Linked DNA regions of Homo sapiens. The protein of the gene in region 3 purifies or fractionates together with the protein of the main gene of each other region. This does not show direct contact. Each region holds a gene or a part of one and is shown on either strand. Other genes may lie near its edges.

What was found.
Region 1: the proteins of ZNF707 (region 3) and TRIM39 purify together in Homo sapiens (affinity purification with mass spectrometry; 3 studies listed by BioGRID and IntAct, with this or other methods). This does not show direct contact.
Region 2: the proteins of ZNF707 (region 3) and TOR2A purify together in Homo sapiens (affinity purification with mass spectrometry, with the first as the bait; 3 studies listed by BioGRID). This does not show direct contact.

The regions. Positions count from the first base shown.
Region 1 is NC_000006.12:30,321,947-30,329,926, forward strand, and holds the start of TRIM39 (E3 ubiquitin-protein ligase TRIM39), read left to right. Parts: upstream 1-4,980; 5' UTR 4,981-5,049; exon of another isoform or gene 5,050-5,210; intron 5,211-5,284; exon of another isoform or gene 5,285-5,750; intron 5,751-6,942; 5' UTR 6,943-7,095; intron 7,096-7,364; 5' UTR 7,365-7,371; coding exon 7,372-7,824; intron 7,825-7,980. Other genes in the region: TRIM39-RPP21 protein, read left to right, coding at 7,372-7,824.
Region 2 is NC_000009.12:127,732,295-127,740,144, forward strand, and holds the start of TOR2A (prosalusin isoform a precursor), read right to left. Parts: upstream 3,001-7,850; 5' UTR 2,977-3,000; coding exon 2,826-2,976; intron 2,271-2,825; coding exon 2,005-2,270; intron 1,267-2,004; coding exon 1,091-1,266; coding exon of another isoform or gene 922-1,090; exon of another isoform or gene 480-921; coding exon of another isoform or gene 398-479; coding exon 270-397; exon of another isoform or gene 1-269. Other genes in the region: SH2D3C (SH2 domain-containing protein 3C), read right to left, coding at 6,452-6,627, 7,388-7,594. UniProt on the Homo sapiens protein: Salusins -alpha and -beta may be endocrine and/or paracrine factors able to increase intracellular calcium concentrations and induce cell mitogenesis. Salusins may also be potent hypotensive peptides.
Region 3 is NC_000008.11:143,679,864-143,687,541, reverse strand, and holds the start of ZNF707 (zinc finger protein 707), read right to left. Parts: upstream 3,064-7,678; 5' UTR 3,000-3,063; intron 626-2,999; exon of another isoform or gene 528-625; intron 162-527; exon of another isoform or gene 64-161; intron 1-63. UniProt on the Homo sapiens protein: May be involved in transcriptional regulation.

The DNA.
Region 1 (7,980 bases), on a different chromosome or scaffold from region 3:
CCCAATTTAAAACAGGAATTGTTTAGGTGCCAATTTAAAACTTAGGAATTATTTCTGATATTTTCCACTTAAAATATTCAGACTGTGGTTGCCAAGAGTAATGAAACCTTGAGAAATGAAACCGAGGATAAGGGGAGGACTACTGTATTTCATGATATGCTGGTGTGGATAAAAATAGGTGCAACCTTACTGAAGTTGACCATGAGGTTGATCACCTGTTGACCACTGAATAGGCCCCACAGACAAAAGCTCCTGATCTGAGGAATTTCGAAGGGAACAAAGACCACCTGGTGACCACCAAACGGGCCAGACAGAGGCGAAACTCCTTTTCTGGGAATTCAGAAGTAATTAAACTTTCCTAGTATCTAAAGTCTGGTTCCAGGCCTCTTTCAACTTTTACAAGTAACTAAAATTTATATACATCTCTGAAATGCCATGCCGAAACTCTTTTTACTATCCTAAGCTCCTGCCTTAAGGTCCATAAATACCTCTAAAGAAAAATCCATGGCAGCACACTTAGTCCTCTTGCTGAGGCGCCCCACTGCACTCTTCTGCAGTGTTCTGTTACCGCCTAAGGGGTTCACCTTGCCCATGCCTAGACAGAGTCAATTCATCGAGACAGGGGAATTGTGATAGAGAAAGAGTACTTCACGCAGAACCAGCTGTGTGGGAGATCAGTCTCCCCGAGCACGGGGGAGCAGAGTTTTAAAAGATAACTTCGTGGGTGGGGGGAAGCCAGTGAGCCAGAAGTGCTGATTGGTCAGGGATGAAACTGTAGGGAATCAAAACCGTCTTCCTGCACTGAGTCAGTTCCTGGGTGGGGGCCACATAATCAGATGAGCCACTTTGGGCAGCCAAAGTGAGTGGATCACCGGAGGTCGGGAATTGGAAACCAGCCTGGCCAACATTGTGAAACCCTGTCTCTACTAAAAAACAAAAAAAAAAAAACAAACAGAAAAAGCCAGGCGTGATGGCAGGTGCCTGTAATCCCAGCTACTCGAGAGGCTGAGACAGGAGAATCACTTGAATCCGGGAGGCGGAGGTTGCAGTGAGCCGAGATCGTGCCATTTGCACTCCAGCCTGGGCGACAAGAGCAAGACTCCGTCTCCAAAAAAAAAAAAAAAAAAAAAAAGAGCCAGTTTATTGATGTGGGTAGTGCCAGCTGACCCATCAAGTACGGGGTCTGCAAAATACCTCAAGCACTGATCACAGGAGCAGTTTAGGGAGGGTCAGAATCTTGCAGCCTCCAGCTGCATGACTACTAAACCAAAAATTCTAATCCTGTGGCTAATGTTAGTCTAGTCCTCAGACAAGAAGGAAGTCTGCTTTGGGAAAGGGCTGTTACCCTCTTTGTTTATAAACTAAGTTTCTCCCAAAGTTAGTTCAGCCTACGCCCAGGAATGAACAAGAACAGCTTGGAGCTTAGAAGCAAGATGGAGTCGGTTACGTTAGATTTCTTTCACTGTCTCAGTCATCATTTTGCAAAGGCTGTTTCAGTTCTTCCTTTCTAATAAACTTTCCTTTTTTCAAACCTATACTGTTTGTAGGTATGGTAAATTCATTTTACCAACCTGCGAGTTGACCACTTCCCGGTGCCAGGGCTCTGACACCTTGCCAGGCACTTACGGAAAGATAATTGTAAAAATCTAATAGAATTTTAAATTTCCATGCCTTCGAACCCAGCAGCCAAACTTCCAGAAATTTATCCTACTAATATAATGGCACGACGATCTAAAGAGATATGTACAAGGATGTTCTCGACAGCCTTTATTTAATAAGATGTGGAAAGAACCTTAAATGTCTACTCAAAATTGTTGAATAAATCACATGTCTACAAAATGAATAATGCAGACTTTAAAAAGAGTGAGGTAGCTCTATGTCACCAAACTGGAACAATAAAAGCCACTATAAAGTATAAAAAGCAAGCTGAAGACTGTCTCTATGTTTGAAATTTTTCATAATAAAAAATGAAAAAAATGGAGGGGGATTAGATATATTGCCTTTTCATGAGTAAGAATCTCACAAGTCTTGGACAATTAAACCCCGCCTTCATCCCTCCCATCTCATCATATCTGACCTCAACCAGTTTCCTACCTACACTGCTTATATGCCCATTTGCTCTATATGACTCAGTCATTTCAAGATTGCTTCTGTTTTCCCTTATTGATATAAAAATATTAAAAATGTATATTTAAAATTTGTTTAATTACATCCCATTATTACAGTTCATTTTTGCATATTCCTGTGTTGAAAATCCTTTGGTATAAATCAACATCAAAACTCGGTGTTATTCCACTTTTCTTGAACTGTAATCCTTTTTAAACAAGGAATATACCTTTTCTTGTTTAGAGAATATACGTACATTCATAAATCTTGGCAACTTTCAAAGGCCATAACAAATTTGTGTTAAGAATTCAGATCCCCTTTATTATTGTGGTAAACAGACAGATGAAATTAAGAGATTATAGCTTGTTTTCACTCTCTCCCAATTACTATCGCTTGAAAAATACCGGATATTTCATTATTATCCTGTCCGGAGTCGGCAAACTACGGTCTACTATCTGTCTTCGTATACGTCAAAAGCTAAGAATGGTTTTTACATTTTTAAATGACTGGGGAGGGAGGGCCAGAATCCAAGGGGAGTATTTAATGACACTTGAAAATGTTATTAAATTCAAATTTTAGCATCCATAATAAAGTTTCATTGACACACAGCCATGCTCATTTAGCTTTTGTTTGTTTTTGGAGACAGAGTCTCGCTCTGTCGCCCAGGCTGGAGTGCAGTGGCGAGATCTCGGCTCACTGCAACCTCTGCCTCCTGCTTTCAAGCCATTCTCCTGCCTCCGCCTTCCAGGTAGCTGGGATTACAGGTGCGCGCCACACGCGCCACACGCCCGGCTAATTTTTGTCTCTACTAAAAAGTAGAGACAGGGTTTCGCTATGTTGGCCAGGCTGGTCTCAAACTCCTGACCTCAGGTGATCCACCCGCCTCGGCCTCCCAAAGTGATAGGATTACAGGCGTGAGCCACCGCGCCCAGCCTTCATTTAGTACTGTCTAATGATGTTTTCATACTGCAAGGAGAAAGCTGAGTATGGACCACAAGGCCAAAAAGATGTCCTCTCTGGCTCTCTACAGCAAAGATTTGCCAAGCCCTGTTATATGTCATACTACTTGCGCTTCATAATTTTATAGTTTTACCTAGACAGTCTCCCTTTTTTCCTTCCATATTCAGCATAAAATCCCCTTAATATCAGTCTCTAGGCAAGCACATTCTTCACAGTCCTTAGAACTGGACCTCCTCTTGTTAATTTCCTTAGTCTAATCACATTCCTCCTGGTTATCTACAAACAGAAAGCCAGAAAGGAGGGCTATCAACATCTTAAGCGCCACAAATTAACAAATCAAAACCAAATCTCTCTCTCCCTCCGAAGCCACGGCTAAGGAGGCTCACTGCCCAGTTAGTGGCTTTCAAACTACCCTTACAAGTGAGACATCTTGTGAATTAGAACAAGTGCTGCTGCTAAAATCCCTAACGGCTACATAGCAATGTGAAAAAAGGTATCAAATGTAATTTTCTCAAATTTAATCTTCTTCAATTCTTGGCACAAAAAAAGGAACAGTAAAGGTAGACAACTGTAATTAGCATGTGTGATCCCAAATCTTTATACCTTAGATACTGGATTATATTTTCAGCAAGTAAATAGTTTCTGGCTCCCAAGATGAGAGGTTAAATAATGCAGGGTGTTTGTAAACAGCAGCACAATTTACACCGGAAATTAGGGCCCTTTCTCACCGAGGAGAGTACAGCAAAATCTGCTCATCTCTTTCAATGAATATTCTCCATGACTAGTGCTGGCGGCGGGGAGGCGGAGCAAGCTATCTTTTCTACCAGCCGTGTCACACCCCTCCTAGCACTAACCCCTCCTCCTCAGCCTTTTCACACCTCTACCCACTACTAGCCCCTCCCCAGCCCCATCACCTCTTCCCGGGCCCCTCACACCTCTCCCAGCATACTCTTCCCCAGCCTCATCACCTCACCCACTTCCTCCAAAATCACTGACCTGCTAAGCTTCCAGCAGCAGGCGGGCAAAGCAGGGAGGCTGTAATGCAAAAGTCCGCAGTCCCTACACAAACACTATCTGCTCCTGCGGAGAAACTCAAGTCACAGCCCCAGAAGTGGAAAGAACAGGCCTTGGCTCTCACCCAGTTAACAAGCGTTTATCCAGCGCACGTGTTGCGGTCGGACCCCATGCGAAGGAGCTAAGGACACAAAGGTGAGCAGCAGAGACGCGGTTCCAGCTCTCCCCCGGCTCCCACTCCAGCGGGATAGGTAGATAATTTCGGTAAATTTCGCCAAGCAGGGGCAGGACAAAGAGTATTTGAAGTCTACCGCGGGGAGAACTTACCTAATCCTTGAATGTTAAAAGGCTAAAAACTCCACTAGTCGGAAGTGACGTGCCAGCTTAGCCCCGCAGGTCCGCCACGTAATTGGCCGCCGCCACAGCTAGCCACCCTCTCCCCAGACTGGCCCGAAGAGAGGAAAAGTGTGGAAGTCCACAAGCCGCCCCCGCCCCGCCCTCTTCGTCGACTTTCAGCTGCACCGGGAGGCGGCGGCGCCTGGCCAGAGCCGGGGCCTGGAGCCTGGACTAGACAGCCTCGCCGGCCGGGGCGCCAGTCCAGCGCCCTGCGGGCAATGGGCTTCAGCGCTCGAGCACGCGCATGCGCGGGCCTGTATCTCCAGAGGATTCCTCGGGTCACCTGGACGCCAGCATCTCAGCCACCTGCCCCTCTGGGTCCCTTCTTGCCCTTGATTCCCCCTGCTGCTTCTCATCGCCAGCCCTCCTCCTCCTTCTTCCGCAGGCACCGCTAGACCCGGCCGCGGCCGCCCGCCGACACCCCAGCTTCCACTGACACGAGCCTCGGCGCGGCTTCCGCTTCCGGCGAGTATTGTGTGTCGCGCCGCGGGGCGGGGGCGAGGGGAGGAGGAAGGAGGGAGGCAGCGCTCCGGCGGCTCCGCGCCCCGCACTCCCGGACCCGAAGCCGGGAAGGTAGGTGCTGTCCCGCCGCCGCGCCCGAGCCTGGGGCCTGCGCTCGCCGGCCGGCTCCGCAAGCCGCGTCCCAGCGCCCCGCGACTGCGTCACCGGCCCCCCGCACGTAACCACAGCTGCCTCCGCCCGCCTCGGGCCCGGGCGGACGTTTTGCCGCCCCGGCGACGTCAGCGCGTCCGGCGTTGCTTGGCTACCCCGCCGTTCCCCCGTCCCGCTGCTGCTCACCTCCCCGGGTGAAACTCTGACGCAGTCACCGCGGGTCTCGGCAGCGTCATAGCGGCGGGCATCCCATCTGCACGTCACACCTCTTTCTCACCTGGACACGCATCCCTTCCTACCCTGCCAGCCACGACGTTTCCTCTTTCCCCTCTCCAATGCCCCAGCCCCAGATCTGGCGGAAGAAGATGGAGAACGGGGGTGGGACAGAGTTGTGGACAACCTCTCAGGAGAGGGTCGCAAGGTGGGACCCTGAACAGTGGTAGAAACAAAATGAGATTGTCCCTGAAGTTTGCCCTTCAGCTGAGACACAAGGAGTAGAGGAAGAGGAAGGACTAACGCAGAGGCACTCAAGGTCTCACTATGACTGTAGTTGAGAGTCCTCTCCCTTCTTCCCTAACCCTTTCCCCATTTCTCTCACCACTTCTTTGCCAGTCTAGATCCGTCCTGGTGCCTTACTGTGCATACAGTTCTACTCGTCTCAGGTGAGGAGGCCACTTAATTTGTAAAAGACTGAGGAAGGGGTAGGATCACCACAAGTCAAAGTTGGATTCCCACAGATAGAAATCATCTGACTGAACTTCTCTCCTATTGCTGACAGAAGAAATTCAAATCCAAAGAAGTTATCAGTTCCTACTCCAAATCAAACACATTTGTGTGTGCCAACAATATATACAGGAACAATTGTTGTTAACCTACCTCATTACATGGCCACTTATCTCTCAGCACATAGATCTACCAAATTTCCTTCCTTCCAGTAGGTCCCTGGAGAAGGATGGGGGTCGGGAGGAGAAAAGGTTATGGGGATAGTTAAATCAACTTACCCATGGCTAAAAGTATGGATGTTTTAAGGATGGAGTAGGGGGCCAGCCTTGTGTTTTATAAATCTCTCCTATGCATTTCCAATTCTTCTGAGGCTGCGCTTGAGGGAGATCTCATTGCCTCTTTTGTGTCTCTTAATTCGCAACCACTCCAGGACCTATAAGTTGGAGACACACTATGCCCAGGGTGTTAGTTATCAATAGCTATATTGAAAGATTCCAGTCACTACAAATAGACTCGTTGCTCTCTTTTCAAGAAGTCGTTGGCCTGAGCTCAGCAATATTTAATATGGTTGCCATAATTTATCAGTTTTCAGCAGTTCTGAGTGTCCAGATGAACACAAGAGAAATGGAATGTTGCGTGAAATGTCATTCCAAGAAGAGAGCAGATTTCCTTTAGGCTAGTCTGATGGATAAAAGGAAGAATAATTTCAGATTTTCCTGAAAAGAGGAGGTTGCCTTTGCCTCATTCATTCCATTTGTTAGCCTTTAGAGCAGTGGTATCTAACCCTTTCAATATGAGGACTCTCTTTGCTTATCTGTGGTGGCTGATAAAAATTATGCATGGACCTTCTGTGGTGGTGATAGAACAAAAGTTATGCATGGACTTTTTTTTTTTTAAGCTTATCAGCTGTCATTAGTGTCAATGTATTTTATGTCTGGCCCAAGACACTTCTTCCAGTGGGCCCAGGGAAGCCAAAAGGTTGGATATTGTGATTTAGAAGAATGAGAGAACAGTGTCAGAGAATCAAGCTTAGACTCCAGTGGATTAATCATAAAGCTCTTATAACATTAAACTTTAAAATATGGTTAATTTAAGAAATGTTAATATTTTTATGACTTTTTTACTTCTCAGATTCCTTTCTTGTCTGTTAGAAACGTATGTCAAACGAGGATACAGTGTCTGGAACTATTGGTTCTAAGATATAAGTGGAATGAGCCTGGATCAGGAGAAGTATGCTGAGCTAGAGTTGAAGGAAGCTTCTCTTTCTAACAAGAGAAAGCAGAGGTAAGAGACAAGATAGATCAATTGGGGGTTGTGTGTCAGTTTACTAACAAGAAAAAAAAGGTTGATGGCTGGGAGTCACAAGTTTTGAAAATGGAGAAACAAAGAGGTTGAATTGATTGGAAGAGAAGATGGAGAATAACAAGAAGGGGCAAATCTGGAGTTAGGACTTAACATAGGGATAAATGTCGGGTCAGGGATGCAAAAAAAAAAAAAAGAAAAAACCTCCAATTAATATTTTTATTTTCTCTGTCCTCTTCCCCACTCCCAAGTTAAATTATGGCAGAGACAAGTCTGTTAGAGGCTGGGGCCTCTGCAGCCTCTACAGCTGCGGCTTTGGAGAACTTACAGGTGGAGGCGAGCTGCTCTGTGTGCCTGGAGTATCTGAAGGAACCTGTCATCATTGAGTGTGGGCACAACTTCTGCAAAGCTTGCATCACCCGCTGGTGGGAGGACCTAGAGAGGGACTTCCCTTGTCCTGTCTGTCGAAAGACATCCCGCTACCGCAGTCTCCGACCTAATCGGCAACTAGGCAGTATGGTGGAAATTGCCAAGCAGCTCCAGGCCGTCAAGCGGAAGATCCGGGATGAGAGCCTCTGCCCCCAACACCATGAGGCCCTCAGCCTTTTCTGTTATGAGGACCAGGAGGCTGTATGCTTGATATGTGCAATTTCCCACACCCACCGGGCCCACACCGTTGTGCCACTGGACGATGCTACACAGGAGTACAAGGTGGGGAAGCAGACACACGATGTCAGTGTGGGTAAAAAGGGAGAAGCGGCAGAGGATGAGATACTCCCTAGGTAGAGATCGTAAGCTCCTACTACTCACTTTGTATTCTCAGAGCTGCATATGCAGGGGCACACAGTATGTGTGATCAGTTGTCCT
Region 2 (7,850 bases), on a different chromosome or scaffold from region 3:
TGGGGAGGGGACTTTGTGCTTCACAAGAGGGGAGAAGCCGGCCCCAAACCCCCAGGGGCAGGAGGAAAAATGCTGGCCTCAGTTCCCTCAGCCGCCTTCTGGGTGTAGGACTCAGGGGCTGTAAGGCTCACCCAAAGTCACAAAGCTGGGAGTGCCAAAGCCAGGCTCAGAACTGCCGGGTCAGTGGGCAAAGCATGAGACCCCGGGAGAGCCTGGCCCCTGGGTGTGGGGTGAAGCTGCCCGGGAGGGGGCTGCTGAGCCAGACTCACGGTGCGGGTTGTCCAGCACCGCGCGGGAGATGACCGGCTCCAGCTCCTGCAGGAGGATCTCCTCGCGGTCCCGCCGGCTGCGCCACGCCTCCAATGCCACCTGGTTGATCTGCTTGCCACCCGTGTTGCTAAAACCATGGGGGACCCAGGCTGAGACTCAGATGAGGACTAGCGCAGGGCAGGATTGGACCCTCGCTTCCCCGCTGCCACCTGACATAGGAACATGGCTCAGTGCGGGGAGGAGCCAACTCCACTGAAAACGCTCCACTTCCCCCTCCATGGTGTCCACATCCATGGCCCCTGTAATTCACCTACACATGCCACGTACTTTATAGTTTACAAAACACTTTTGTGTCCCTCAACTGACTTTCCCTCACTGAACTTCCAGGAAGGCATCGGGGCATCATTATTGGCCCCGCTGTTCAGAAGCAGAGACAGAGGCTCAGAGAGGCGGAGCCATGCTGCCTGAGGAAACACAGCGAGGATTCTGAGAGCTGGGACTAAAGGACAAGAACTCTGTTCCTATTTTTCCCAGGCCTGTGTCCTCCTCACCACAAAAGAGGGAAAACTTCTTGACCTGGCAGGGCTTCCACAAAGAAGTGGCGATCAAAAAGACTGAGCCCAGAATTTGCTGAGAATGTCCAAAGGGAAATCAACCAGGCGGAATGACAATGTCATCTCTGAGAGTGGCGGAGGGCACTGGGAAAGCCCAGCTAAGCCCATGGGGAACTGGATTCTGCTGGGAGCACAGGCTAAGGCTGTAGAGCTGAACCTCTGAGAAGTGGCCCCCCCACTGTGCCCACTGCAAAGCCGGGCCCCACCTGATGAAGATGAAGATGGCTTTGCGGTAATTGGTCCCGTATACCACCCAGGAGGAGCCCAGGAAAGGCCGCAGGACTTCCATCAGGCCTGGGGGCATCTTGTCCATCTCATCGAAGAGGAAGAGGGAGCGGCCACAGGCAGTGAGGTTCCCTTGGACCCAGCTCTTCAGATCCTTCTGTAGGGGAGAGACAGGAGTTCCAGGGGAGCTGGAGAAACTCCCCCAACACCAGACCTCTTCCCAAACCAAAACTAATCTCCTTTCTAGGGAAGGATGTGGTCTTCCAGAGAGCACCAACCTCTTAGTGAGACTGATGGTGAAACTGTATCCCAGATTGGGGCAGAGACTTGCCCAAAGTCACACAGCCAGTCAGAACAGGGACTCAAACCCAAGCCTCCCACTTCCCTGTTCAGAGCTCCTTCCACGACACTTGCTGCTTTCTATAAAAGGGGAAGGCTCCTTCCTGCTCCCTGAAACTACACAGCAGTGTTGACGGCTGAAACTGATCAGCCTGGTGGGTACCCTGCAATCAACAACAGTAGTAGTAAGAGCCAATATTTCCTGATGCTTCCTCTGAGCCACAAATTGGGGCTGATTTCCAGCAAGACAACAGTGCAGATTATCTGACAAACATAGGTGCTCCATAAATGATATCTGCAATGGTATAATCTCATGTCCCTCACAACAACCCTGGCATGTAGGTACTGCCAGGGTTCCTTACTGCCCCAAGGAATCAAAGTACTCCCTGCCAGGTAGAATGACACCTTCCCAAGTTCTGTGCAGGATGGGTCCTGAGGGCTGGGGCTGCAGCCGTGTGTGGCCTGGAGCAGGTGACTCCCCTGTCTGGGCTCAGGACTTACTCCCTAGGGTGGCACCCCATGGTGAGAACAGTGGTCAAGGACGCATCCAGCCTACCTTGTAGCGCTCGATGTGGCTGGGGTGGGGGAAGTGGAGGACGGGAGAAAAGTGGTGCACGCGGGGGCTGCGGAGGCCGCCCTGGAAGAGGTAGTGCGCCAGCAGGGAGCTGACATAGGATTTGCCGGTGCCGGTCCAGCCGTGCAGGGAGAGGACCAGCGGCTTGGTGGGGGCTGGGTCCCGCACAAAGGCCTTCAGCGCCTTCACCACCAGCGCCTTGGCCAGATGCTGGCCGGCCAGGTGCTGAGCCAGGTCACACTCCAGACCTAGGGCCACAGGAGGATGGTGAGGACACATCCCACCGAGGCAGAGGTTCAAGGAGAACATCATGTCTGGAACCTGGTCTGGGACTCCTGTGTCCTTACGTTTGTCCAAGCTGCCTATGCACATGGCACGCAAACCTTGGGGTCTGTGGCGGAAAAGAGCCACCTTCGGGCCTGATTCAGCTCGGCAGCGCCCCCACCAGGCGGTCCTCTAGATTGCACTCAGCTCTAAATGCGAGCTGTCAACGGGGTCAGCCGCAGACCCCGCCCATCCCCAAGGCGCACTGCACTTCTCCTTTGACGGCCAGGCCATTCCGGGGAGGCCCAAGAACTTCCACCAAGGGTTCTGCTGGCTGAGGCCTCTCTCCAGGTTGGCAGGGCCTCCTGGACCTCAACGGGTACCCTCCACCCTCCCAAGTCTGCGGGCCCCGCCCCTCGGTCCCACCCTCTGGGTCCTCAGCTTCTCTGGCCGGCGCCAGCCGGGCTCCCAGGGCTCCCAGCGCTCCCGCGTCTGCCCGCGTCCGCCCGCCCCTCGCTCCGGGCTCCCTGGCGCCTCACCCGGCAAGTCGGGCCGGAAGTCGCATTCGCAAAAGGCGCCCAAGGTGCAGCGCAGGGAAGCCAGGTCCCAGGCGGCGGCCGCGGCCGAGACCAGCCCGAGCAGCCCGAGGAGCGAGCCCCAGGGCCGGCAGCCGCGCGTCGCAGCCGCCATCCGGGTGAGGCCCGAGCTCGTTGTGGGGCAGTCAACTGCCTCGCCCGGGAACTGCAACTCCCGGCGTGCACCGCTCCGCAGCAGCCACGCCCATCGCCTACAACTCCCGACGCTCCTCTCCCCGCCTCCAAGGCCCGCCCGTCGTTCCGCAGCAGGACCAGAAGGTGGCCTCCAGGGGGAACCCGCGAACCGTCCAATCCGGGACGGCGGGCCGCGTTTCCATGGCCACGGTAACTAGGGGACCATCGTAGTGGCTCAGAAAGAATAAATAAAGGATCACGACCACAAAGGGCGACGTAACAATTACAGCAAAAACTTGTGCGGAACCTTACACCTTGCAAAGCGCCTTTTCCATGCTCCTTTTTTCTTCTATATGACAAAAGTGCCCTCACTAACAGCTTTTGGTGAGCACTTACTCTGTGCCATTAGTGCTAAGTGCCTATATACCTTATAATATGGTAATAGTATCTGCTATCCAGAGAAATGGTGGTGTTCCAATGAGATAAAGGCACACAAATTGTCTGGCTCAGAAAGTGGTCAATACATGATCATCAACATTCCGTTGTGTATTAAACAGGACTGTCCCTCACCTAGCAGCAACTGTGGCCAAATGCTTGGTATCAGTCCTGGGAGATGGGTTCTGTTGTTGTCCCCATCTTAATAAGGAGGAATTTGGGACCGAAGAGGTTAAGCCTCTTACCCAATGTCACGCAGCTGGTAAACAATAGAACTAAACCCAAGTCTGGCTGCAACCAGAGCCGTAGTGCGTGGTTGCATGTTATCAGCCTCTCTTGGTCAAAGGATTCAGAAGGCAAAGGACTCCAGACGTTTGAGGTTCAGCGCGCAGGCTCCCTAGGCCTCCAGCTTGGCCTGGATTCGTTTTGATCCACGTTGCCCACCTCCCCCACCCACTGGAGTAAGGGAACCAAGACAACAGCCTTCATGGCCCACCTCAAAGACCCTGTCCCTACCAACCTCAACACATAGTCACACACACACACACACACACACACACACACGACTTCTGGGGCCAAATATCAGAGCCTGAAAAAGAAATAAGTATTTCCGGCCAGGTGCGGTGGCTCATGCCTGTAATCCCAGCACTTTGGGAGGCCGAGGCGCGTGAATCAACATGGCGAAACCCCGTCTCTACTACAAATACGAAAATTAGCCGGGCGTGGTGGCAGGCTCCCGTAATCCTGGCTACTCTGGAGGCTAAGGCAGGAGAATCGCTTAAACCCGGGAGGCGGAGGTTGCAGTGAGAAGAGTGAAACTCCATCTCAAAAAGAAAAAGAAAGGAAAGGAAAGGAGAAACAGAAAGGATGAAAAGAGAGAGAAAGAAAGGAAGGAAGGAAGAAAGAAAGGAAAGAAAGAAAGAGAAAGAAAAAGAAAGAGAAAAGAAAGGAAGGAGGGAAGGAAGGAAGGAAGGAGAAAGAAGAAAGAAAGAGAAGAAAGAAAGAAAAAGAAAGAGAGGAAGGAAGGAAGGAAGGAGGCCGGGCACGATGGCTCACGCCTGTAATCCCAGCACTTTGGGAGGCCGAGGCGGGCGGATCACAAGGTCAAGAGATCAAGACCATCCTGGCCAACATGGTGAAACCCCGTCTCTATTAAAAGCACAAAAATTAGCTGGGCGTAGTGGCGCATGCCTGTAATCCCAGCTACTGGGGAGGCTGAGGCAGGAGAATCGCTTGAACCCGGGAGGCAGAGGTTGCAGTGAGCTGGGATTGTGCCACTGCACTCCAGCCTGGTGACAGAGCAAGACTCCATCTCAAAAAAAAAAAAAAAAAAAAAAAAAAAAACAAGAAAGAAAGAGAGAGAGAGAGAAAGAAAAGGAAAGAAAGAAAGAAAAGAAGAAAATGAGTAGTTCCCACTATCAAGGAGAAAAAAGGAGAGAAGTCTGGGTCCAGGAAGCCAGGTGGAGCCTTTCCCACTCTGCTGCTGCTGTGACCCGGGAAAAGTCCCTTCTCCTTTCAGGTACCAGTCTTCAAGAGGGGAGTTGGGATCATAGATTTCAAAAAGCCCTTCCACCCCAAATCCTCGGATTTTTGGTTGTGCATTTGTGGGAACTGTTGCCATGGCATCCATCCCAGGGCAGGGCAGGGGATAGGAGCACTGGGTTGGAATTAGCTATTTATCTCTCCCGCTGGTCTGTGAGCTCCCAGAAAGCAAGGATTGGGTTTTCATATTTGCTGTAACCCTGGCTCCTGGCACAATCTGGACTGTCCCAGGTGCTAAAGAAGTATTTGTTGTTGAGTCCTAATTAGGGAAAATGAGTCATGCTGATGGGACCAGGGGAAAGCAAAAAGAGAAAGCAGATAAGCTCAAAGTCTGCCTTTTTTTTTTTTTTTTTTTTTTTGAGACGGAGTCTCGCTCTGTTGCCCAGGTTGGAGTGCAGTGGCGCGATCTTGGCTCACTGCAAGCTCCACCTCCCAGGTTCACGCCATTCTCCTGCCTCAGCCTCCCAAGCAGCTGGGACTACAGGCGTCCACCACCACGCCCGGCTAATTTTTTGTATTTTTAGTAGAGACAGGGTTTCACCATGTTAGCCAGGATGGTCTTGATCTCCTGACCTGGTGATCCGCCTGCCTCAGCCTCCCAAAGTGCTGGGATTACAGGCATGAGCCACCATGCCTGGCCAGAAGTCTGCCTTCTTGATGGTTCAGGACACACAGCCCTCCTGTGCCCAACTTCTCACCGGACACATGTAGGTTAGCCCACTGCAACCTTGGCATTATCAGTACTGCAGAAAGCCCTGTTCAGCACACAGCAGAAATGCCATCCCATAAAAACTCACAGCAAGGCTTTGTCTCTTTGCAGTCAGCTCCTCTTCTGCTGATCTGCCCGTTGCTACCTTGCAATGCATTTTCATGCTTCCTGAAATAAATCTGCCTTTCTTTACCTACAACTGTCTTGGTAAATTCTTCTTACTCCCATGCCACTGGCCCCAGATACTCGGCACTCACTCACAACATTTGTTGAATGAAGTTTTCTACCTTTCGCCTGAGAAAAGGTGCTTCCTTCTACCCCAGGAGCCCGAGAGACAGAATAAAGAGTCATAAAAGTTTATTATATGAAAGAAATAACATGGCTTCTGTACATCTATTTACAGAACAGAGACTTATTTACAGTGAGATGGAGGCCTTGGTGTTGGTGAGGGACAGACAGAGAGTGAGGAGGCGTGAGCAGCCTGCCTCCCATGGCTCGAAAACAGGGAACCCCAGCAGGAAGGGGAGCAGCAAAAGCTGGTGGGGGAACCGGCGTTCCTGTTCTTCCTCAATGGAGACCTGGTGAGCATGTAGCAGGTGGGATGGAACCCAGAGTCCACGCAGGACCCTGGAGGTGCAAGGGAGATGCTTGAGTTGAACCCAGAACATTCTCGGGTTGATCACAGTGTCCTTGGGGTGCTCTGGGGAAAGTTGTGTGCCCCTCTGCCCCTGACGCTGTCCGCAGCTGCAGAGGGGAAATGTCCCTGGGGTCACAGCTCGCTGGAGCGGACAGCAGGTTCCAGCTTGTGGGACAGGGCAGTGAGGACCTTGTCGAACTTCTCATAGCGCCGGGCCTGGCTGCTGCTGGCACCCTGACTGCCCCAGAGAAGGCGCATCTGGAACTCCGTGCTGAACACCTCCAGGAGCTCCGGCCGGGCCTGGAACCCTGCAGTGTTGGGGCATAGGGTCAGGGCAGAGGCTGGGGTTCCTGTCCAGAGCCCTAGCATTCTTCAGGACCCCCCTGTTAGGGACCTCCCCTCAACTCCGCCAGGGATCCAACAAGGTTTGTGAATCAACACGACCCTGTAGTTTAGCATCTTTGTCCTGTTATTTGCAGCATATAATTTAAAAATGACTAGACCATAAAATATTAATGTTAAATATGTTTGCAGATTTTTGGTGATTTTTTTTCTTTTTTCGTATTTTTCTGTTAAGTTCCAAATTATTTCCTAAGAAAGATGTATACATTTTAGGCTGGGTGCGGTGGCTCACACCTGTAATCCCAGCACTTTGGGAGGCCAAGGCGGGTGGATCACCTGAGGTCAGGAGTTCAAGACCAGCGGCCCAACATGGTGGAACCCCACCTCTACTAAAAATACAAAAAATTGGCCAGGTATGGTGGCTCACGCCTGTAATTGCAGCTACTCGGGAGGCTGAGGCAGGAGAATCGCTTGAACTTGGGAGGCGGAGGTTGCAGTGAGCCGAGACTGTGCCACTGCACTCCAGCCTGGGCGACAGTGTGAGACTCCATCTCAAAAAAAAAAGAAAAAAGAAAAGAAAAGACATGAGAGGAAGGGGTCAGGGAGACAGGGCAGGACAGAGGAGTGGAGAAATGTGAATGGATGCCTTGGAGAAAAGGGAAGCAGTGAGGCAGGTGGAGGGAGGCCCAGGCCTGCAAGCCCCCCAAGATGCCACCCGCCACTCACCCTGCAGCTTGACTTCAGCATTGGTGTGGTACAGGCCTCCGTGGTGTGCCACTGTGCGGGCGGCCTCCAGGTGAGCCAGCACCACCTCCACGCCGTGCTCCGTGCTGCCCCAGGGCTCAGGGCCCTCTGGTGGGGCCGAGTCACACTCCAGCAGGGTGATGAGGGGCAGCACATGAGGAAACGTGGTGTTGCTCAGCGGCGGGCCTTCTGCAAGGAGAAAGGCAGCAGGCGCTTAAAGATCCTGTAGTGCCCCACCATCCACTGCAGTCCTGGAAGCTGAGGTGCAGGAGGGAACGGGCCTGGCTGAGGTCCGGGAGAGAGCCCCAAGGGCTCCTGACTCCTGGGACAAACCCTTTCTTTCGGATTCCCCCAACTGAACCCACTGCAGCCCTGGCCCAGCCCCAAGGGCTGAGCCTGGACATGAACAGGGCTGACACAGCTGCCAGCAGGAACAGTGAGCTCA
Region 3 (7,678 bases):
CAATATGGCAAAACCCTGTCTCTACTAAAAATACAAAAATTAGCCAGGCATGGTGGCAGGCACCTGTCATCCCAGCTACTTGGGAAGCTGAGGCAGGAGAATCGCTTGAACCCGGGAGGTGGAAGTTGCTGTGAGCCAAGATCGCACCCCTGCAGTCCGGCCTGGGGAACAAGAGCAAAACTCCGTCTTAAAAACAAAAACAAAAACAAACAAACAAAAAACACAAACTGGAGGTAGAGGTTGTAGTGAGCCAAGATTGTGCCACTGCACTCCAGCCTGGGTGACACAGAGAGACCATCTTCACAACATTGGGGTAGACAAACATTTCTTTCATGGATCCCTAAAAGCACTTTTAAAAAATTACAAATTCAGGCCGGATGCAGTGGCTCACGCCTGTAATCCCAGCACTTTGGGAGGCCGAGGTGGGCGGATCACCTGAGGTACGGAGTTTGAGACCAGCCTGGCCAACATGGAGAAACCCCATCTCTACTAAAAATACAAAATTAGCCAGGCGTGGTGGCACTTGCCTGTCATCCCAGCTGCTCAGGAGGCTGGGGCAGGAGATTCACTTGAACCCAGGAGGCAGAAGTTGCGGCGAGCCGATATCGCGCCATTGCACTCCAGCCTGGGCAACAAAAGCAAAGCTCCGTCTCAAAAAAAAAAAAAAATCACAAATTGGATTTATCAGAATTAAAAATTTTTGTTTACCAAGGCAGTTAAGAAAAAAAAAAAAGGAGACGGGGTGCAGTGGCTCACGCCTGTAATCCCAGCACTTTGGGAGGCTAAGGCAGGGGGATTGCTTGAGGCCAGGAGTTTGAGACCAGCCTGGGCAACATAGGGAGACCTCTGTCTCTATTGTTTAAATTTTTTTTTCTAAAAAGAGACACAAAGGTAAGCCACAGACTAAGAGAAAATATTCCCAATACATGTATCTGACAAAGGACTTATATAAAGAATTGTAACTCCTACAAATCAATAAAAAAGAGAAATAAAATTTAAACTGGGCAAAATATTAGAACAGACACTTCAACCAAAGTTATACAACGGTCTATAAAAACATGAAAAGGCACACTGAGCACATGGGTCATGGGTGGTGTTTTCCAATTAGAACACCTTGCTGAGTTCCTCTAGCAAGTAGCAATGACCACAGTGATAAAAATAACAGCTCCCGGCCATTCGCGGTGGTTCACGCCTGTAATCCCAGCACTTGGGGAGGCCGAGGCAGGTGGATCACCTGAGGTCAGAAGTTCGAGACCAGCCTGGCCAACATGGTGAAACCCCATCTCTACTACAAATGCAAAAAATTAGCCAGGCTACTTGGGAGGCTGAAGCAGGAGAACTGCTTGAACCCGGGAGGCGGAGGTTGCAGTGAGCCGAGATTATGCCACTGCACTTCAGCCTGGGAGACAGAGCGAGACGATCTCAAAAAAAACAAAAACAAAAACAAAAAAAAAACACCCTCTCCCCTCAGCTCAACAGCTGTGTTTGCACAACCTGGACTGGGCTTCCCAGCCTGGAAAGCAGAGTCAGGGAGAACCGTGAGATAGGCCAGGAAAGGGGCTAAAGCCAGATTCCTCAAGGCCTCCTGAGCCGTGGTTTCATGTGTAATGCAACAAAGTTTAATACGGGAGAACAGAAGGATATTGTCATAGCTACTTTTTTTCCCCTAGGCAAATTAACACAGGATTTTTTTTTCTCTGAGGCAGGTCCTTGCTCTGTCACCCAGGCTGGAATGCAGTAGTGCAATCACAGCTCACTGCAGCCTCGACCTCCTGGGCTCAAGTGATCCTCCCACCTCAGTCTCCCCAGTAGCTGGGACCAAAAGCGCATGTGCCAACATGCCCTGCAATTGTTTTAAGTTTTTTGCAGAAACGGGGTCTCACTATGTTGCCAAGACTGATCTCAAACTCCTGGCCTCAAGAGATCCTCTGGCCTCAGCCTCCCCAAGTGCTGGGGTTACAGGCGTCAGCCACAGCATCCGGCCTAAGCTACCTTTTTTTTTTTTTTTTTTTTAATAAGATGATGTCTCGCTCTGTCGCCCAGGCTGGAGTGCAGTGGCGCGATCTCTGCTCACTGCAACCTCTGCCTCTTGGGTTCAAACGATTCTCTTGCCTCAGCCTCCCCAGAGTAACTGGGATTACAGGCGTGCACCACCACACCCGGCTAATTTTTGTATTTTTTGTAGAGACAAGGTTTCAACATGCTGACCAAGCTGGTCTAGAACTCCTGGACTCAAGTGATCCACCTGCCTCGGCCTCCCAAGAGCTGAGATTACAGGCGGGAGCCACCTTGCCTGGCTAAGCTACATTTTATAAAAGATCCTCTGTGATGAACAAATGAGAAAGCAGCAAAACAGGATGGGGGTGGGGAGAAGACAGGGAGGCGTTCAGGTGAGAGAGGAAGACGGCCAGGATTGGGACTTACAGGGTGGGAATGGCAAGGAGGCAAATGGTTCAGTTATGGAGCTAACGCACCAGTGACTGTGTGGCTGGGCGTGGGCAGGAAAGGAGAAGAAGCGAATCTCGGGTTTCTGCCTCCTCCCCTTCGCGGTGGAATGCCTGGGAGGACCAGAGGGTGGGGTGTGGAGGTTGCAGGAGCTCAGCCTGGGGCCGGGGAGCTTTGGGTGTTATGAATCAAGTCTAAGCGCTCGGGTCTCATCGGAGCGATAGGGCTGGAGACACAGGTGTGGAAAGTGTCTATGAGGGATAACTAAGGTCACGATCGCGGACGGGGTCGGCCAGGAAGAAACCAGCTTCAAGAGGATACGCAACCGGGTCCTGACAAACCTGCAAGTGTAAGGAGCGAGGAGAGAAGAGGAGGCCGAGCCGGAAGAAGCTGAAGAACAGCCCCCGAATAGCCGAGGGCACGGGCAGCCTCCCCGGTCTGTCCCAGCAGCCGCGACGCTGGGTCTCACAGCCCTGGGGCGGCCGCAGAATTAGAAGGTTTGACAGCCCACGACCCAGGGACGGAGGGGCGGCGGGGGACACGGGCGCACTCACCACAGGGGCGTCCTCCACTAGGATGCTGCATCCACTACGCCGCGCCGGTAGCCCAGACTTTTACAAACTTCCCGAGCGGAAGTTGTTATCCGAAAGCTTCCGGCCCCTCTAGGAGCCCACGTCTCGGTGGTGCGCGCTGGCCTTCCAGGCCGTCCAGGCCGCCCGCCTCGCCCCGCACCGCTTGTGGTTCCGCCGCAGCCGGCAGGCCCCGCCCCGGTCACAGCCAAGCGCCACGACGCCCGGCTGATTTTTTTGTAATTTTAGTAGAGACGGGGGTTTCATCATGTTGGTCAGGCTGGTTTTGAACTCCTGACCTCAGGTGATCCGCCTGACTTGGCCTCCCAAAGTGCTGGGGTTACAGGCGTGAACCACCGATCCCGGCCCTCATAACCTAAAGTCGGCCTAAAGGTTTATCCTACAAAGTGAACTGTAACCTAACTGGAGGTGTGAACAGACTGTCACTTGCTCTCCTGCCAGTCACCCAGTTCCAGCCAATCAAGGGTGTAGGGTCCAGCCCTGCGGGGCTAAGCGGGTGTTGTCCCCGTGTGCGGAGATGAGAGATTGTAATAAATAAAGACACAAGACAAAGAGATAAAGAGAAAACAGCTGGGCCCGGGCGACCACTACCATCAAGACGCAGAGACCGGTAGTGGCCCCAAACGGCTGGGCGCGCTGATATTTATTGCATACAAGACAAGGGGCCAGGGTAAGGAGGGTGAATCTTCTAAGTGATTGACAAGGTGAAGCAAGTCACATGATTACAGGACAGGGGGCCCTTCCCTCTTAGGTAGCGGAAGCAGAGAGAGAAGGCAGCATAAGTTAGCATTAATCAAAGACTTTAAGACTTTCACTATTTCTTCTACCGCTATCGACTACGAACTTCAAAGAGGAACCAGGAGTACAGGAGGAACACGAAAGTGGACAAGGAGCGTGAACATTGAAGCACCACAGGGAGGGGTTTAGGCCTCCGGATGACTGCGGCCAGGCCTGGGTAATATCCAACCTCCCACAAGAAGCTGGTGGAGCAGAGTGTTCCCTGACTCCTCCAAGGAAAGGAGACTCCCTTTCGCAGTCTACTAAGCAACGGGTGACTTCCCAGACACTGGCGTTAGGGCTTGACCAAGGAGCCCTCAAGCAGCCCTGATGTGGGAGTGACAGAAGGCTCACCTCTTGCCTTCTAGGTCACTTCTCACCATGTCCCTTCAGCACCCGACCCTATATCCGCCGGTTATTCCTAGGTTATATTAGTAATGCAACAAAGAGTAATGGTAAAAGCTAATGATTAATAATGTTTATAATAATGATTGATAATTGTTCATGGTCATCTCTATATCTAATTTGTATTATGACTATTCTTATTCTAACTATTTTCTTTATTATACTGAAACAGTTTGTGCCTTCAGTCTCTTGCCTAGGCACCTATGTAATACTCCACCCACACAAGGGTGGCCAACTGTTCAAACCTAGACACGCCTTTCTATAGATTCCAGGTCTTAGGTAATCACTTAACTTATTCAACCAATTGCCAATCAGAAAATCTTTGAATCCACCTATGACCTGAAAGCATCCAAAGTATAGCCAAGAAATATATTTAAAAGTAAAATAGGCCGGGCACGGTGGCTCCCGCCTGTAATCTCAGCACTTTGGGAGGCCGAGGCGGGTGGATCACGAGGTCAGGAGATCGAGACCATCCTGGCTAACATGGTGAAACCCGTCTCTACTAAAAATACAACAAATTAGCCGGGCATGGTGGCGGGCGCCTGTAGTCCCAGCTACTCGGGAGGCTGAGGCAGGAGAACGGTGTGAAACCCAGAGGCGGAGCTTGCAGTGAGCCGAGATCGCGCCACTCCATTCCAGCCTGGGCGACAGAGTGAGACTCCGTCTCAAAAAAAAAAAAAAAAAAAGAGTAAAATATTTTGATTTCCTTTATCTGTCATGTGACGTTATGCTAGAGTCAGGTTGGAAACTAAGCCAATTATATAGGGTTAAATAAAACCTATCTGATGACATTTTATGGTTTGTAGGGCAGACTCCCCAGGCCCTTTAGATAAGAACTTGAGCAAGAGAGAAAAAGATCAGTTTAGTCCTCACTAGTAAAGGAGTGATAGCGACAGGAGGCAGGCAGCCAAATGCCCAGCCAAATGGGGGCAGGTCCCCAGTGAAACCTCCACCTCGACGCTGAAAACAGCTTAAAGCCTGAAAGCCAAGCTGCAAGTCGAATCCTCAGACCGGATTGAGAGCCTGTCTTCCTGTCTGGCGCACTTTCCTCTGATTGGTCCCACCCTTCACCTATTTTACATATACCTACCCTTTTCTAATTGGCTTTCTACACTGTCATGCCCACCTTTCAGTGGTGCCTTTGCTTTAACCTTTTTTGCATTACTCACAAACCAATCAGCACGCCCTCCCCATTCTGAGTCCATAACATGGGGAACTTTCCTGCCTTCATGTAGGGGGACCACGCCATGTCCCCTCTCCACTGAAAGCTGCCCCGTCACCCAGTGAAATTCCCCGCCTTGCTCACTCTTCGATTGTCAGAGCCTCCTCATTCTTCTTGGCCGTGGACAAGCATTCGGGAACTCGGGGGAGTTGACGGGCTGTCTCCTGCAGCAGGTAGTGTGTCAAGCGAGGCCCTGGCGGGGCGTCGCTGGCCGGAGGTCCCTGGCTTGCAGAATGACTGAGAACAACATCCTATGTCAATAGGAATGTCTTCAAAATTGTTAGTTACATATAATTTAATACTTGTTGATTTGCTGTTACTTATGTTTTTGGTTTTGAGCCTCTGGAATCGGGGCTGGACAGGTGGCCATGGTGAGGTCTGGGGACAAGTTCTCAGTGCCTCGACCAGCAGCTCCCAAGCAGAATCCAGCCCCATGTGGTCCCCTTTCGCCAGTTTTGCCTCCTGGCTATTCTGGGAGAGGTTGGATCCTCCAGGCATTGCCTTCACAGCTCTGTCTTCTGTCCTGAGCTCTAACCTAGGATGTAACTTCGGGCCTCAGACAGCCTTGACAGCCTCCCTGGGTGCCACATGGCTACTTGAGACCCAGCAGGCCTGGGAAAGACTGTAGGGAGGGCACCTGTGTCATAGCTTCATGCAGGGAGCCGAAGGCCCGTGGGACGTGACCAACTCAGCATTCCGCTGGAGGCTCTATGATCAAACAGCAAACTGTTTACCATGAATGCAGGATGTGGGTGAACTCACACTGCCCTGCCACCAAAAGGTTTGCTGAGGGCCTCGCTCCCTGGCTCTGGGCTCCTTGAAGTTATCTATTGAGAAATACTCTATTGTCCAAAGGATGCAGCCTGTTCAAGGCCGACTGACAATTACCCGACAATCACCCCCCTTTTCTCACTATCTCTTTTGCCTAATAGATACGGAGGGCTGTGTAAAGCTCAGGGCCCTTGTCCACTAGAGGCAAGGTGCCCCCTGACGCCCTCTTCCAAATATACTCTTTTGTCTCTTGTCTTTATTCCCGAGTTCGCCCCCTTTGTTCAGTCCCCTTAGGTCCGTGCAGGTTACAAGTGGCGCCCCGATCAGCGATAGAATCGGGTGCTCAACACTTTCAAAACTGTTTTTTTTTTTCGGATGGAGTCTGACTCTGTTGCTCAGGCTGGAGTGCAGTGGTGCAATCTCGGCTCACTGCAAGCTCCACCTCCTGGGTTCAAGTGATTCTCCAGCCTCAGCCTCCCGAGTAGCTGGGACTACAGGGGCCCGCCACCATGCCCAGCTAATTTTTTGTATGTTTTGTAGAGACAGGGTTTCACCATGTTGGCTAAGCTGGTCTCGAACCCCTGACCTCAGTTGATCTGCCTGCCTTGGTCTCCCAAAGTGCTGGGATTACAGACGTGAGCCACTGTGCCCGGCCAAGACCCCATCTCTTAAAACATTGGGAAGAAAAAAATCTATAATATTATAAAAGCTGTATGGGCCAGGTGCGGTGGCTCATGCCTATAATCCCAGCACTTTGGGAGGCCGAGGCGGGCAGATCATAGGTCAGGAGTTCGAGGCCAGTCTGGCCAACAGGGTGAAACTCCATCTCTACTAAAAATACAAAAAATAGCCGGGCGTGGTGGTGCGTGCCTATAGTCCCAGCTACTCAGGAGGCTGAGGCAGAAGAATTGCTTGAACCCAGGAGGCAGAGGTTGCCGTGAGCTTGTAGCAGGACAAGATGCAGACAAAACTCTCAGACACCAAGTCAAAGAAGGAAGGAGTTTATTTGGCCGAGAGCATTGGCAAGACTCCTGTCTCAAGAGCCGAGCTCCCTGAGTGAGCAATTCCTGTCCCTTTTAAGAGCTCACAACTCTAAGGGGGTCCGCGTGAGAGGGTCGTGATCAATTGAGCAAGCAGGGGGTACGTGACTGGGGGCTGCATGCACTGGTAATCAGAACGGAACAGAACGGGACAGGGATTTTTACAATGTCTGGAATCTATAGGTAACACAACCGGTTAGGTCAGGGGTCAGTCTTTAACTACCAGGCCCAGGGTGCGGCGCCGGGCTGTCTACCTGTAGATTTCATTTCTGCCTTTTAGCTTTTACTTCTTCTTTCTTTGGAGGCAGAAATTGGGCATAAGAGGATATGAGGGGCAGTCTCCTCCCTTATTCCCCCTCTTTGAGACTCTCACTCATTTTATTAGTGGGAGTTCTCACCTTCTTCCTCACTAGCTATGTCTTCCTGCA